Homo sapiens: one gene and its partner. The protein of the gene in region 1 purifies or fractionates together with the protein of each later gene. This does not show direct contact. Each region holds a gene or a part of one and is shown in the gene's direction. Other genes may lie near its edges.

Region 1 (3,811 bases):
TCCTGCCTGCCCTAAGAAGATGCCGAACTGCTCTCCCACTGCAAAGAATGCTGTCTATGAGGAGGATGAGCTGGAGGAGGAGCCCAGGAGCACTGGGGAGCTGAGGCTCTGGGATTACCGGCTCCTCAAGGTCTTCTTTGTGCTGTAAGTGACTATACTGGGGAGGGGGACAGACCCACCTGCATGTCTAGGTGCTTGGAACAAGGGCCTTGGAGTGTGGGGAATTCACTATTCAGAACCAGGGGGAAGTTTCTGAGTCAAATTCAAGCTCTTGGGTGGTATCTGAAGGCCATGTGGCACGCCCTTCTGTAGCAAGAGAAAGGATCTCCAGTTTTTATTCTTGAAACCCTGTAATTTAGGGTTAAGACTATTTGGTGGAGAGGGGCAGGATATGGAGATGTTGAGAAGAGGAAAAGGATTTGGGAGAAGGAGGGCCAGGAAAATTGGAGAGAGAGAGGAAAAGCTTGGCCTCGCCACTGCCCACCACTAGGGCAGCTTCTGGAACCCCTGACTTGTCTCTACCTCTGTCTAAGGACCAGTAGAGCAGGGAGCATCGTGGGAAGTGACATGAACAGCCAGCCCCTGCTTTCCCTCACCTTAGCTCATCAGCCTCCTCTGGCTCGGCTGGCCGGGTTTTGACCATCAACATCAGCACCTGCTGGGGGAATGGGCCCACCGCCTAGGGGGTCATCATCATGACCTCCCAGAGGAGGCACAGGAAGGACCACCATGGCTGGTGAGAGAGAGGGTAGGATGACTGATCTGGCTGTCTGGCCAGAGCTCCCCCCAGAGCTCAGCTGAAGGGCCCAGAGCTCTAGCTGGGCTGTAAGGACACTTCCATGGGGACAAGTCTGAAGACCCCTACATGGTGTCTGGGAAGAAAGATGCTGAGGCCTGAACTGGCTGCAGGACAAAGGGCTCTTTAATTCTTCCAACTGCAGGGGTAGCTTGGTCCCCACTATTTCCGGTGAACTTCCAGAAATGCTCTTTCTGTGGAAGAAATATTTAACTCCGTATTGCCGCTTTCTTCAGGATCTGCTTCCTGGTCATGTCCTCATCCTACCTGGCGTTCCGTATTTCTCGGCTAGAGCAGCAGTTATGCTCCTTGAGTTGGGATGACCCAGTCCCTGGGCACAGGTGAGGCCTTTTCTCTTTCTAATGCCTTTGATATTGAGGGTTGAGGACAGGAGCCAAGAACCTCAGGCCAGGCTGCCTGGCTGGACTTGGTCCTGTTTTGAGCTGGCTTCTGACCCTAAGCAAGGTTGGGCAGCGTGCAGGGTACACCAGTCCCACCCTGGCCCACTCTTGGGGGAAGTAAAGTTATCACTGGCCCTTCTGCCCACGTCCGTCTGCATTCTGGGCCCTTTCCCTGATGTGGACATCTTTCCTGTGTGCAGGTAACAGCCACTTGGCCTTTGTCCCCATTCCTTCTCCAAGAAGAATGTTCTGGGTGCTAAGTCTCCACCAATGATCCCTGTGGTTTATGCTGCTGCTGTGCTAAGACTGCCTATGAAGGAAAATATTCCAGATCCCTCCTCCTCCCCGCAGCTCTTCTCTTCCCTCTATGAGAGATCTGAAGTACGTGTTTACAAAGTAACTGGCTTCTACAATTTTTGGACTCAAGCAAAAAGCCAGATTTTTTGGAACCAACTGAGGAATTCTGTACACAAAGCTTCAGCAAACACTTAGAGAAAACAAACAAACAAACAAACTGGGTCCTTGGAAACAGTTCTGGCACACAGGCAGAACACTGGAGGCCACCTCAAAGGACAGAGGCCATGCTTTCGCATTTGGAATGTGGCTCTGCCACACAGCTCACTCCTATGGTGGGGTCAGAGGTCAGAACACAAACCACCCATGTGGGCTCTGCTCCCTCCCAACACTCTGTGTTCCCACAGGGCTTCTCTGCGGGCAGCCAGGCACCTGTCAGGCTTGGGCAGGGGCCTGCTGAGAATCTGTGAATGCAGAGGGGAGGGCTCATGGCCAGGATTCCAGCCAGAGATGAATTTCCATGCTCTGGGCCAGGGCTCTGTGCCGGCCCCTCATGAGGTGGCTGGCTGCATTATGGGGAGATGCTGCCCACGGCGGAGATGGTGGCAGTGGCTGTGAAGAACAGAGGTACCTGAATTCTGTGTCCTCAGCTGTCACTTTCCGGTGAGACAAGTGGAGCAGGGCCTTTGATCACTGTGGTCACAGACCTGGTACTGGGTTTTGCCCTTGTGTGCTCAAACATTTCTAAGGTGTCCCAAGCCCTGGAAATAGGGAAGGGAAGGGTGGAGGCTTGGATCTGAGGTCTTGCTGTCCACTCCCTGCCTGCCTGCCCGCATCTCAGGCATGGCCAACAGCAGCCCGTTGAGGGGGGCTTGTCTGGACAGTTGCGTGTGATGGTGTTGAGCCATCACAGGGCAGAGGTCACTTGTGTCACCCCCATAGTCATTGGGTTGCAGGCCATGGAGGAGGGACCTCCACTCCATGGGGCCTATTCTCCATTAAGGTGGAAGTGTCCACTGTGGGCCTAGCACAGTGCAGGAACCAGGCCAGGGGGTCTATCTCATACCTCTGGGGACAGGAAAGGTAGAGGATGAGGAGGTTGGACGTGGTGGTGGCTTTGCCTTGGATATTCCTCTTCCTCTATCAAGGCCTTCTCTTCTTCTCTGTGTCCCACAACTCTGGCCTCATCGCCCTGGGACTCCCATCTGCTAAGATAGTGGCTTTGGAGGTTCTGGAAGGGCTTAGTGAGGAGGCCAGAAGTATCAGGGAAAGTTGCTGGTGATGGGGTGGGCGGTGTCAGAAGCAGCCACTGTTTTCCCCTCTTCAGACACTGAGAGATTAATCAGGGAATGAAATCCAGGTGGAAATTATTTATTGTGAAGCAGACGACTGTCTGTCCTGTTTATGACAAACCCAAATGAGAATTGGAGGGACTACCAGTAAGTGGTCTCTTCATGCTCTCCCCATCCCAGTTTTTAGGATGAAATTTAGAGCCTGGCCTTTTGTGTTGCTTGCACCAAATCTGTATGTCTCAGGTGAAACTCACTGTTCCATGAATGGTCATCCTTTTTTTTTTTTTTTTTTTGGAACCAGCCCCTTTCACCCTTTCATCCGTCTTTTTTTTTTAGGAAAATAACCCTTCTTGCTTCAGCACTTCTCCCTGGTCCTTGCTGAAAGACAGAGATAAAAATCCATTCTCTGAGCCTTGCTTGGTTGTCAGAGGCCATGAGAGGTGCCAGTTATAGGTGGATGTGCCAAGATGCTGGTGAACTTGGTCTTCAGCTATACCCAGGCTCAGAAAGGGCAAGAGCCATGCTGCAGCGTAGGTGACTTTGGAGGTGCACTTGGGGCCCAGGGCTTTGAGTGTTGCGGGTGTGCCTGTCCCTCCAGATAGTGCTCTGTTTCTCTCTGTTGTCCCCCTGCCTGGTCCTCTGGGGCCACTGTGCTTTCTGCTGTGTGCATTTATAAATGATGTGTATTTTATATAGACCTGCTTGCATTGGCTGATGCTCCTCTAATTCCCTGAGTTTGATTCAACCACCCTTGGGTTGTTTTGCTATGGCCTTAGCCTTTGAAAATATTTTAAAATAAAAAACTTGATTTTTCTAGTGTATTATGGTATAGAAAGTTCATTTTTATCCTCTGACTACTCACTACAGGTACTCTTACTGACATACTCAGCCCCCAGGAGACTGATGGAGCCCAAGTCATTCCTATAATCCCAAGTACTCTGCAAATCTCAAAGGACTTGGCATATGGGGAAGAGTGAGGGTGGCCACAGCAAACCCCCACAGCCCTCTGCCTCTGTTGGGTGGACACC
Region 2 (3,811 bases), on another chromosome or scaffold:
TTCCCGAGAAGCACTGGGCGCATGCCTCCGAGTGAGGGGCCTTGGCTCACAGGGCAGCGGCTGGGGCAGAGCTGCTGGATTGGTGAGTCCATTGGGAGCCCCCAGCCTTGGGTCAGGCCCATACAGAGCTTGGGGTGGGGGTTAATGCCACTGTTGAATGTGCTTTCTCCTAGTGACCTTCAAAGGGAGATGAAAGTTAAAAATAATTTTGGTGGGGGAAATAGCTGGTGGATAGCGGGCCAGTGATGGGGGTGGGCAGGAGGATGTGGCACTGTCGGGGGGAGGAAGCAGACCAAATGCTCCTTTTCCCTCAAGCCGCAAGGGACGGACAGCACTATCTGTGGCCTTTGTGGTTGGCATTTCCCCTGCAGTGTCTTCCTGTTAGGAGTTCTCTCAGATAATAAGCTGCAGAAGAGAGCAGGAGATGGAGCAGGCACTGTGTGCATCGGATTGAAACTCCTAAGTGTCTCTTGCACCTGCCCCAGTGCCAGCCACAGCCCAGGCCTTCAACGCCCTCCGGCCTCTTATGCTGGAAGTCTCCTTAGCAGATGGCCTCATGGCCAGAGCTGGCCTCCTGTGAGCTCTGTTGCTGCCCTAACTGCAGTGCCTATCATCTGAGCCCCTCTCGCGAGCCACCTTCACTCGCTAAAGTGAATTTAGGCCGACTTTGTTTTTGCTGTGTCTGGCTTGCTATCTATTCTTTGTTATGAGTGATCTCAAATATGCCCTATGATCGAAGAGTTCTGAGCAGAGAGAATTCAGCAGCCCTTCAGGAGCCACATCTGTCCTTACTTTAATTACCCCTCTGTGACACTGTGGGCCTGCTTTTCACTTGCCATCCCTGACCTAGGTCCTAAGATATATGTGATCTATTTTATCCCAGCCTGACAACTAGAGATAATTCGGTGTAATCACATGCTTCCTGACAGCAACTGGGGCATGAGAGCACAGGTGGTCAGGGAGTGTGGGTGGTGCCAGGCTTTCACAGGGCACACACTGTGGTCCACGTCGGCCCCTCTCCCAGATGATATGCCACTTTTACTGTCTTGTGATACTTGGAAATAGTATCACAAGACAGCCTTTTTAAGGCTTCAAAGTCTCCTTTTGCCAAGGATGGTGATTAGCTTATCTTAGTCCTCTGAGAACAAAGCAAAAGGAAATGACTACTATTAAAATAGAATATAAGAATGATGTAAAAAAAAAAGGGCTTCTTGCAGCAAAATTATAAAAGGGCTGCAAAGTTCTAGAATTTCTTTTATTGATGCTCTGCAAAACACAGGCACTGGGCTCATGCCTCCCAGCGAGGGGCCTTGGCTCACAGGGCAGTGGCTCCCCAGGCGGAGTGTTCACAGGTGGCCCAGATGTCTCATTGGCCCTGCCCTTCCTCAGCCTGCGCTCCGGACAGACTGGGCAGTGTGCGGGAACCACCCTGCGTTTTACTGCCTCTTGTTCACACTGCTCCTGCATCCACCTGAACTGCCCCAGATCATCTTGGCCGGCTGCCTTCTTCAGGGTCCCTGCGAATATTCCTCCTTTAGGAAACCAAGCTAGAAGATGTCTCCTTCTCCTTGGAACTCCCTCTGCACTTGACCCGTACACTTCTTAGGCCCTGGCCGCTGTCCTTGTTGGATGGACTGCAGCCCCTCAGGGAAGGTTTTCATTCCAGTCCTCCCTGTGTTAATTGAGCACCTGCTACATTCAAGCACCGGGCTCGGTACTGGGGATTCCTTGAGTGAAACAAAGGTTCCTTGCCCTCACAGAGCTTACGTTCTCTACTAGAAAGGTGCGAAAATGAACAGGCAGCTATAATACGGTGTGATGATTACAATGACAGGAATGAAGGGGATGGGGGAGCACATGGCAGGGCCCTATGCTGGCTTGGGGTTTTGCAGACTTTCCTTAGGAAGTGACAATTAACTGGATACCTGAAGGATGAATGAGAGTTAGCCCAGTAACCTCACAATGCTGTCTCGAATGCAACCACACAAAAAGATTTGCTGTAGAAATGAGTAGGTGCCTTTTGTAGCTATCCCAGCGTGAGGTCTGTGTGAGAAGTGGCATGCTTTTCATGAGGAAGGGACCTCCTTGGTCCCTCCACCTCCCTCCTCTTCACCCCCCAGAAGAAGTTGGGTGGGACAGGCTTCTGCAGCAAACAAGGGACCCCCTCCCCTCACAGGGACCAAGGAGGACAGAACTTGTCTGAGCTCTACAAGCCCAGATTGAAAATAGAACTGAGAGAGACAGGAGCAGTGTGAGTGACAGGCATGTGCTCTGATTGGCTAGACAGAGGAATCTGAAATATGAGTTTGGAGCGGGCACATGACTTAAATATCCTCTGCTGGGTCAGCTTCCCCTTGCCCCCAACCCCAGCTGCACACGTGGGCCCTGAGAAGCGGACTTCTGGTTCTGTCAGAGAAAGATGACCCATTTTCAAAGAGGCCGCCCCATGAGCCATTCGCCATTTCGCTCTGCACAAGAGACATTTCCTGTTTGGAGTTCTGCTATCCGAACTTGGTCTTGCATTGGCGCAGATGTGGGCACACCCCAGGGCCCTGGGAGTTCAGAGCTGCAAGTGAGGCAGGAGGCCATGTGGCCTAAAAGAAAGAAGTCAGGCCCGGGTCAGCAGCCCTGGATTCTGGTCCAGGCTCTTTTGCTGCTGCAGTGCTGTGACATACTGAATTTGTCCCTTTTCCTCTCTGAGCTCAGCAGTTTCATCTGTAAAATAATGGAGAGGGAATCATATTAGGTGATCCATGAGGCTGGCCCAGCTCTGGTATCGTAAATGTTTGTAGCCAATACAACATCCCTGGTTATGATAGAAGGATGCCCTTGACTGGCCCAGCTCTGGTATCCTAAATGTTCGGAGCCGATATAACATCCCTGGTTATGATAGAAGGATGCCTTTTCTTAGACGTGAGGATGCGTCCCACGGGCTTCAGCACTGGGTCTGCTCTGTGGAACTTCCAGGCCGAAGGCTGGGGAGGGTAATGGGGCAGCATGGCTGCAGGAGTCGAGCTCAGTGCCTGAGCCGGGAGCTCGATGCGGGAGCTGTGGGCTGCTCCTCCTCCCTGCTAGGAGCAGGTGCAAGAGGCCTGCAGAGTGCTGGGGCTGGGCACGGACCTCACAGTGCCATGAAGCCTCGTGCAGCTTTGAATTTCACTTGTGATTTCTTCATGGAACTTCAAAGCCCTAGCAATGTAGGCGCGTAGTCAATTATTATTTGAGTAAGTGACTGCGTGCAATGGCCCAGGATAAGGGGGTTCTGGAGAGGGCAGTCCGTGCTCCTATTCTTTCTCTGTCTTCTTTATTATGATTTTTGCTTTTTACTATGAAAAATTTTAAGCCTTCAGAAAAGTAGAGTGATATGCCACCCATATACCTATTATCTAGATTTAAGAAGAAGAATGATTTTTCCATCTGTTATTTGCTGTGTTTGGGAAGGATTTTAAAGTACAGACGTCATGACATTTTACCTCTAAATGCTTCGGATGCAACTCTAAAAAATAAGGATGTTTTCATACTTAACCACATTTTTATGAATACGCTGAACAAAGCAAATCAGTTTATTTGTCCCCCAAATATTTTGATTTGTTCAAACAAGAATTCAGTCAGAGTCCCCATGATGCGTGTGGTGGTGCTTGGTGGTGCCTTAGTTCCTTTGACATGGGACAGCCCCTCCCAGCTCTTCATTTCTCATGAGTTGAAAAGGCTGGGCCAGGCCCGATGGCTCACGCCTGTAATCCCAGCACTTTGGGAGGCTGAGGCAGGTGGATCACGAGGTCAGGAGATCGAGACCATCCTGGCTAACATG

The links.
Region 2: the proteins of GRAMD2A (region 1) and TUBA8 purify together in Homo sapiens (affinity purification with mass spectrometry; one large-scale study listed by BioGRID and IntAct). This does not show direct contact.

What each region holds. Positions count from the first base shown.
Region 1 is NC_000015.10:72,159,599-72,163,409, reverse strand, and holds the end of GRAMD2A (GRAM domain-containing protein 2A), read left to right. Parts: coding exon 1-144; intron 145-1,032; coding exon 1,033-1,137; intron 1,138-1,397; coding exon 1,398-1,401; 3' UTR 1,402-3,604; downstream 3,605-3,811. UniProt on the Homo sapiens protein: Participates in the organization of endoplasmic reticulum-plasma membrane contact sites (EPCS) with pleiotropic functions including STIM1 recruitment and calcium homeostasis.
Region 2 is NC_000022.11:18,113,780-18,117,590, forward strand, and holds part of TUBA8 (tubulin alpha-8 chain), read left to right. Parts: intron 1-3,811.